3 separate regions of the Homo sapiens genome follow, and regions 2 and 3 are each linked to region 1. Evidence: fine-mapped expression QTL. A gene starts in region 1. Each other region holds a variant in brackets. All regions are shown on one strand. Distances are from middle to middle.

Region 1 (2,749 bases):
GCCAAATGCTATCATGAACGTAGGAAACTTGATTTTTTTGTTTTGATCATGGCCTCTACATGCACCTTTCCAGAGTGGTCTCTTCTCAGGCCCTTTTTAGTCCCTTTCCAAAGCTGCCCCCACCACCCTGCTCCTCTGGCCTCAGTGCACAGTGGCCCCCAGCCTCGGCCAGGCCTGCTCTGCTCAGCGCCCACCGCCCACCACCCCTCCTGCTTCCCCGAGCCTGACCCTGTTCCGCCCACTGGCAATCAGGGCTGCGCACTTCCCTGTCCACGGTCCCCAGGCCTTCCTGTCTTGTCCCTTTTGATCATTATTAACTCAGGGTTTCAGCTCCAACCTCGCTGAGTTGGTGCAGCTCCAGGTCATTCCTGGGGTGGGAATCGGATCATCCCTGACTCAGCTTTTACCTTAATTTTATTTGCAGAGGATTCTTTTCTCAAAATGCTCTGGCATTTGGACACACATCACATGTCGATATTTGCATAGGAGTCATTTTCAGTGGAATAACATTTTTAATGTGTGGTTTTACGGTTCAAGGAACTACTTGATGATTTTGAGGAAACACTTGCCAGAAACTAAATTAACGAATAAAAGATTTCAGTGCCCGACTTGGGGATCCTGTGGTTTCTCTAGTGGGCACTGCGCTTGGGCACAAAGTCATCTGACAGAGCCTGTCGGGGGGAAGCCAGGGGTGCAGCAGCCCCCAGGTCACCATTGTGTGATGATGCGTTAGCCCAGAAATCCAGCTTGAGGCTGTGTCTCCGGAAGCCCCTACAAATGTAATGGGTCCCCCATCTGCAGCTTCCCATTGCTGCCAGGAAGAGGCTGTGGTGGTCCTGACTTCCCTAAAGAAGAACTATGGATTGTCCAGAACAATCTGGAAAGGGGTTAAATGTACTTGGGCCCTTGGGGCTGCAGCCCAGAGACTTGGTCCGTGTAGTTGGAGAGGGGGCCGAGGCAGGGGCTGACACCTTCTCGCCTCAGAGGCCTGGACACACCCAAGTCAGGGTCCTGAGCCCATTGCAGGCCCCGTGGAGCCACTGTGTCCCCAGAGATTCCTAGGAGCCTCCAGGGCCGAGGGCCGGGACCCAGAGGCGGGGCGCTCAGCTCTGTGGGTGTCAACACAGCCAAACATGTAGACCTACTGGGCACCCTTTACTTCAGACACACTGTGGTGGCGGCTGGGGGTCTGCCCTTCTGTGAGAGTTGGGGGAACTGTCTCCCAGGCCACTCGGGGCTCCTGTGAGAAGCTCAGTGGCGTGTATCCTCAGCCCTCGCTCCACAGATGAAGTTCCTGCCATCTGGACAGATCTGAGCAGCCTCAGGGCCAGCCTCCTTTCTCTGCTGGCCATACCCAGCCCTGACCTAGCCTGGTGTGGGCCTTTCCCTGTGCCCTGTACTCCATCCTCCCAGCTCCAGGCACCTGGCACCCTCACACTGTGGGAGTGGCTTGGGCAGGTCCTCAAGGCCTGTCCCCCCACCCGACCCCACCCCACCGCCTCCCATCTGCCCTGTGGCAGCTTATCGGGTAACCAGAGCCGGCAGCTTCATCCACGTCTGAAACAGGAAGCCCCAGCCTGTGCATGAGTCGCCACTGAGAGCCCGGGCCAGAGGATGGAGAAGCAGCGGGCACTCGTGGCCGCCAAGGATGGGGATGTGGCGACGTTGGAGCGGCTGCTGGAGGCTGGCGCCCTGGGCCCGGGCATCACCGATGCTCTGGGGGCCGGCCTGGTTCACCACGCCACCCGGGCTGGCCACCTGGACTGCGTCAAGTTCTTGGTGCAGCGGGCCCAGCTGCCCGGCAACCAGCGGGCCCACAACGGGGCCACCCCAGCGCATGACGCCGCTGCCACGGGCAGCCTGGCCGAGCTGTGCTGGCTGGTCCGCGAGGGGGGCTGCGGTCTGCAGGTGAGCGGGGATGGGGCAGCCTGGCTCCACGAAGCTGGCTGGGGTGGAACCAGGGAGGTGTGAGCCACGGAGGATCAGAGTACTGGCCACCCCGGGCTCCATGGCCCTGGGCCCTTTGTTTCTCTTGGGGACTCAGTCAGTGGTTACCGTCTCTGCCCCACGCCTCTCAGAGCACAAAGGCTTGAGAGCCAAGAACACCTCCTAAATTTTCTTATCACCTTCCCTGCCAGGAAGCTGGGCGTTGCCAGTGGGGGTCTTGCCAGATATCAGGACCCCTGTCTCTGATCAGGCCTGGTCCACAGGGCCTGCCTCCCAAAGGGTCTAGAAAGGGATCCTTACAGAAGCACTGTGGGAACTTGGGCTTGAGAGCTGGGAGCCTAGCCCTGGGGGACGGGAGTTAGGGCTGCTGATGGTGATCGTCTTGTCCGGATCGTTTCTACTGGGCCCCCCTCCCCTATCCTGCCTGCCCAGTCCCCTTTGTGCAGGCGAGGCCCTTAGAGCTGTCGCTCAGCCCTGTGGAGCTTTCAGGGCTGAGGGTGAGCAGGACTGACCGGCCTTAGAACGCCGCCGCCCAGAGGTCAGAGTTGAGGTGGGGGCCGGTGGGGCCTGCTTAGACTGCGGAGCGGGAAGGTTCCCCAGCACCTGGCTCGCCAGAGCACCTGAGAGTCCCGGCCCAGCATCCTGTTCCTGTCGGCCCTTCCGCCAAACCCAAGGGCAGCAGGCGGGAGCTGTGCCTGCCTGGGGATCCATTCTGACAGGGCCCTTGGAGAAGGCCCAGGTCTGCTGGACCCCTGACACCTGTGGTAGGAACGCTCCCTGGCCCCGGGACCCTGTGGCCAGC
Region 2 (2,749 bases), 29 kb after region 1:
GGATCCCCGAGGCTCTGGGTCTCTGCTCCCCAGCCCTTGCCCTTTCTGCAACACCCTTCTTCTTCTTGGCAGCCATGTCCCTCAGCCCGGCCTGGCCTGGCCATCCTGACCAGCCTCTTCCCAGGGAGCAGATGACCAGCCCGGCCCCTCCGAGGATCATCACCAGTGCCACGGCTGACCCCGAGGTTCGTCCTCCACCCCTGCATTCCTGTCTCCCGGGGCCCCTAGCCAGCCTCCATTCCCATCCTCTTAGGGGCCCAGAGAAGCCCCCAGCACAGCCAGGCCTTTCCTGAAGGGTGGATGCCAGGCTGCCTGCGTCACTCCGCTGCTCTCGAGAACACCCTGAGTTCTGAAGAGACAGGAATGTCAGGGCGACGGCAGCTGTCCCCCCCACCACAGAAACACGGGGACCCTTCTCTGTTATCCCAGAGGGCTGCAGTGGCCCAGGCCCCTCTCCCTGACCTCTGAGCTCAGGGGTGCTCCGTGCCCGCTTGGAGTGCGGAGATCGCAGCAGCCATCCATGGGCAGGGCCCCGCTGCCACCGTCCTCCTCCTCAGGGCCTCGGCCAGCCCAGACCAGCAGAAGGGTCCTGCTCCCCCTTACTCTCCCTTTCCTGGGCGCCGGGCCCTTAGAAAGCCAGCCCAGACTTTCCCTGCGTGGTACTGCAGATTCTCAACCATTGAGGTGTTCGGTGGGAGTCTGGGAAACGCCACGTGGCGCTGCTGCCCGTCGTGGAGAGCTGGAGCGCGCACGGCACATTGAAGGCTCTGACAAGCCCTCCGCGGCACAGGATTGGCTGCCAGGCTTTGTCTATGTAGCTGTGCCCAGAGCAAGTTTGCCCAGGGATACGGTGCGCTCCGCGAGCATCTGCTGGGCTTGCACAGGGGACGGGGAGGGACCTCTGGTTTCATTTCTCTGCCGACAATCCCCTCACACACATCTTACCCCGCCCCCTCCAGTCCCTCCCCTCTGAGGCCTCACTCTTAAGCTGGGGATGAGGGGGTGGGGTGCTGTCCGTGGCCCCCACTGTCCCTCCTCTCAGGGCGCCCTGTTAGCGTGCCCTGGGCGGAGCCAACCCCCCACGTCCTCTCGGATCTTCCCTCCACTCAGGGCCTGGGTCCCCTTCGGGCCTGTGTGACCCACCCCCTTCTGCACAGGGGACAGAGACGGCGCTGGCGGGGGACACCTCAGATGGCCTGGCCGCACTACAGCTGGATGGGCTGCCCTCAGGCGACATCGACGGGCTGGTGCCCACGCGGGATGAGCGCGGCCAGCCCATCCCAGAGTGGAAGCGGCAGGTGATGGTGCGGAAGCTGCAGGCGCGCCTGGGCGCAGAGAGCTCCGCAGAGGCCCAGGTAGGCCCCCGGCAGGGGCGGGACCAGTGGGCGGGGCGGGGCCTTTTCCAGGTAGGTGGAAGTGGAAGTCAGGGCGCCCGAAGCCCAGA[A/G]CTGAATCCAAGACCCAGGGGCCCCTCTCCTCTGTGGCCTCAGCTGCTGCTTCCGCCGGAGGATGAAGTGAACCTGACCAGAGGACTCTGAGCAGAGCCCCTTCACCTGCTCTGGAGGCATGGGTCCCACGTATCCTTCCACTTGGCGGATTTGTGGCACATGCCTGCCTGTGCCAAGCGTTGTTCTAGGCCTTCCTGGGCGCAGCGTCTAGCAGGGAAGACGGTGGCCCATGGGCAGGTGCCGGCAGGTGTGTGGGGTGCGATTCCCACTGCTGTGGAGAAAGCAAAGCAGTTGGGGGACTATGATATATGGGTGCTTAGGGGGCCCCCTCTGGGGACGTGGCCTTGAGCAGGGGCCAGAGGGAAGAGAGGGGGAGCCCTGTGGGAATTTGGGGCAAGCACCTCCTAGGCAGAGGGAACAGCCAGTGCAAGGGTCCTGAGGCCGGGCTGGCCGGGGGAGGAGCAGGAGGAGGCGCCCTGGCATGGAGTGGGCGCCTGAGGTTGGAGAGGAACCTGGCTGGGATTATTGCACCTCTGTGAGGCCGTGGGGAGCCACTGAGAATCTGAGCAGAGAAGGGCTGTGATGTGCCTTGGATTTTAACAGGCTCCCCGGGCTGCTGTGCAGACAGGAGTTCAGGAATTATGTCCTCAGAGTCCTATGATTTTGTCAAGATGATTGAGTTCTGTGCCCCCGGCCCAGCGCTGTGTCCAGCGCAATCCTGCCAGCCACATGCAGCCACTGAAATTCATTACAATTTAAGGAAAGTAAAAGTCCTGCCCCTCCGTCGCACCAGCCACCTGTCGTTTCTGTAGCCACAGGTGGCTCCTGGCTGCTGGAATACAGCCTGTCTCCATCGTCTCAGGACTGTGGGACAGCCCTGTCTGAGGGCCCAGCCTGTCCTTGCCTGTTGGGCTGGGAGCCGTAGGGGCTGAAAGCCACAGGGTTGAGAGCAGAGCAAGACGGGCAGAGCAGGTCAGGGGCTTCTGCCCTAGCTGGGAAGCCCTTTAAAGTCTTACCTTGGGGCAGGACCAGAGGCTCTGCAGAGATACTGAGAACTCAGGGACTTGGAAGCTAGGTGGGCTGATGGTGGGTGGGTGGGCTCACCCTGCTCACCCTGCCCTTCCTGTGCCCAGGACAATGGTGGGAGCTCAGGCCCCACGGAGCAGGCGGCCTGGAGGTACTCACAGACTCATCAGGCCATCCTGGGGCCCTTTGGGGAGCTGCTGACAGAGGATGACCTGGTCTACCTGGAGAAGCAGATTGCAGACCTGCAGCTTCGGCGCCGCTGTCAGGAGTATGAGAGT
Region 3 (2,749 bases), 41 kb after region 1:
TTGTGGGGCTGAGTGGTGAATGCACAGCTTCTCTGCATGCTTGGCACGTGGCCTGGCACCTGGGAGCACCGCGGGAGCAGGAGCTGCTGCAGCCCCCAAATGGCCTCCCCAGCAATGTGGGATCTGGGACGGAGGACGCCTCCCGGGAGTTTGGGTGTCTCCGGGGTCCCTGGGGGGTGGGCTCAGTGTAGCCCAGGGTTGCAGATGACACCCAGGGCATGGGTTCTTTTGCCAACCCTGTTCTGCCCTGAATGCCTGGCCATGGGTAGGTCTCCCACCCTCTCTGAACCTCAATTTCCTCACTGCAAATGGGAATGACACCTGCCCTACCTTGCAGGGTTCTGGGGGTGGCTTGAGGCAGATGGGGGGTAAAGTGACTGGCATATGGTCGATGCCCATCCTGTGTTTATCAAGGGGTGGAAAGGGCTGATGGACAGACCGGGTGGGTTGCTCAGGAGGATGAGACCATCCCCACTTGGCTGACCCTGCTCTCTTCTCTCCTAGGAGCTCGGGCGGCTCCAGGCACTTCTTCCCTTGAGTGGGTGGACTACTGAGGTCCCCTGGGCACGGCGTCATGGTGCGGAACGTGGATGACCTGGATTTCCACCTGCCCTCGCATGCCCAGGACATGCTGGATGGCCTGCAGCGCCTGCGCTCTCAGCCCAAGCTGGCCGACGTCACACTGCTGGTGGGCGGCCGGGAGCTGCCATGCCACCGCGGCCTCCTGGCGCTCAGCAGCCCCTACTTCCATGCCATGTTTGCGGGTGACTTCGCCGAGAGCTTCTCTGCGCGCGTGGAGCTGCGGGACGTGGAGCCCGCCGTGGTGGGACAACTGGTGGACTTCGTGTACACAGGCCGGCTGACCATCACGCAGGGCAACGTGGAGGCGCTGACACGCACGGCTGCGCGCCTGCACTTCCCCTCGGTGCAGAAGGTCTGCGGCCGCTACCTGCAGCAGCAACTGGATGCCGCCAACTGCCTGGGCATCTGTGAGTTCGGGGAGCAGCAAGGGCTGCTGGGCGTGGCTGCCAAGGCCTGGGCCTTCCTGCGAGAGAACTTTGAGGCTGTGGCACGTGAGGACGAGTTCCTGCAGCTTCCCCGAGAGCGGCTGGTCACTTGTCTGGCCGGCGACCTGCTGCAGGTACAGCCGGAGCAAAGCCGACTCGAGGCCCTGATGCGCTGGGTGCGCCATGACCCGCAGGCCCGGGCCGCCCACCTGCCCGAGCTGCTCAGCCTAGTGCACCTGGACGCCGTGCCCAGGCCCTGCGTGCAGCAACTGCTGGCCTCAGAGCCCCTGATCCAGGAGTCAGAGGCATGCCG[G/A]GCAGCCCTGTCCCAGGGCCATGATGGGGTGAGTGAGCGGCTGGGAGGCCCCATCCCTGGGAAGCAGGGAGGAGAGCCCCAGAGACCCCACCTGAGTAGGGACAGAGTAAGGAGTGGACATTCCAAGGTGCACTCTGACCTTGCCACGCTCCTTGTTTTGGGCCAGTTCCCCATGAGGACATCACTATTCAGCCCTCAAGTGCAGATCATGCCTCTGTGTGTGTCACGCCCTGTGTGCAAGGGGCAGGGGAATGTGGAAGTGGTAAGATCTGGCCCTGTCCTGAAGGAGCCTGCAGCTCAGTGGGACAAGCCTGGAAACAGACCTCAGGCAGTGTGGAAGGGCCAAATACATGCCTAGGACGCATTCTGGGTGGGCTGGCAGTCAAGGAGGGCTCTCTGGAGGAGGCAGCATCTGAGCTGGGCCTTAGAGGAGGGATAGGAGCTCACAAGGAGGAAAAGAGGGGAAAACCATCCAGGAAGGAGGTGCAGCTTGTGCACAGGCAAGGAGGCACAGACAGGCCTGGCAGTCCGCCTGAGCTTTTATGGGGTGCTACTTCCTGTTTGTGCTGGCAGTGTGCCTGGCAGGCATGGCAGGTCATGATGGAATGACAGGTCTGGGAGTGGCTGTTCGGTCAGCTGCCGGGCACCCTGCTCAGGGGCCTTGCTTCGGGGCACTCCTTTAGAGCCAAGTCCGGGGACAAAGAGTGGCTCAGACTGATGGTCCTCAGGCCAAGGGTGGAGTGAGTAGTGGGCTAAACCCTAACCCCTGTCCCCACTGGATTCCAGCCAGTCACAGAGCGCCCGGCCTCCTGCTGGAGCTGGCTTCAGAGCCTTGCCCGTGGACGGTCACCTTGTATTCTAATTCCTGGCAGTGGGAGATCTGGGGGTTCCATATGGGGGGCCAGGGTGGATGGCTGTGGGAGAGCCTGGGGTCCTGGGAGACCTAGGCAGTGACTGCTTACCGGCCGTTCCTAAGACAGCCAGCATTTCCCACTGAGCCGGGACACCCTCGTGCCGCCTGCTGGAGGCCACCCAGGGAGCAGGGGCAGGGAGAAGCTTATGCGTGGCGCTGCGGACCTGCTATGGGATCGGTTCTGAAGATGGTTCAGGAACTCCAGGAATGCCCCTGAAAGGCACATGGTGCAAGGAGGGAGCAGCTTGTGCACTCGGGCACACGCCATCTCCAGCAACATGCAAGCACACATGCACTCACATGCTGAGGCCTGCCCAGGACACGCGGGGGCTCAGGGCATGGGGACACATTGCTGTTGCCCTGACCCTGGCCTCCCACCCCACAGGCACCACTCGCCCTCCAGCAGAAGCTGGAGGAGGTCCTGGTGGTGGTGGGCGGGCAGGCGCTGGAGGAGGAGGAGGCAGGTGAGGAGCCCACCCCCGGCCTTGGGAACTTTGCCTTCTACAACAGCAAGGC

Evidence for each region.
Region 2: its variant is fine-mapped to the expression of ESPNL in stomach (GTEx, PIP 0.96).
Region 3: its variant is fine-mapped to the expression of ESPNL in skeletal muscle (GTEx, PIP 0.97).

The regions. Positions count from the first base shown.
Region 1 is chr2:238,098,806-238,101,554 of GRCh38, forward strand. ESPNL (espin like) reads left to right here and starts at 1,535. Exons shown (of 9, transcript NM_194312.4): 1 at 1,535-1,908. The coding sequence starts at 1,615. It overlaps SCLY (selenocysteine lyase), which reads left to right. Exons shown (of 12, transcript NM_016510.7): 12 at 1-608. It overlaps UBE2F-SCLY (UBE2F-SCLY readthrough (NMD candidate)), which reads left to right. Exons shown (of 19, transcript NR_037904.1): 19 at 1-608. RefSeq lists an enhancer at 1-48.
Region 2 is chr2:238,127,550-238,130,298 of GRCh38, forward strand. It overlaps ESPNL (espin like), which reads left to right. Exons shown (of 9, transcript NM_194312.4): 7 at 73-185; 8 at 1,158-1,355; 9 at 2,579-2,749. Among named protein-coding and RNA genes, the nearest start is that of KLHL30, 9.7 kb to the right of the region's middle. The variant A/G (reference allele first, on the strand shown) is at 1,445.
Region 3 is chr2:238,140,181-238,142,929 of GRCh38, forward strand. KLHL30 (kelch like family member 30) reads left to right here. Exons shown (of 8, transcript NM_198582.4): 2 at 505-1,348; 3 at 2,619-2,749. The coding sequence starts at 575. Among named protein-coding and RNA genes, the nearest start is that of KLHL30, 2.9 kb to the left of the region's middle. RefSeq lists an enhancer at 744-1,257. The variant G/A (reference allele first, on the strand shown) is at 1,321.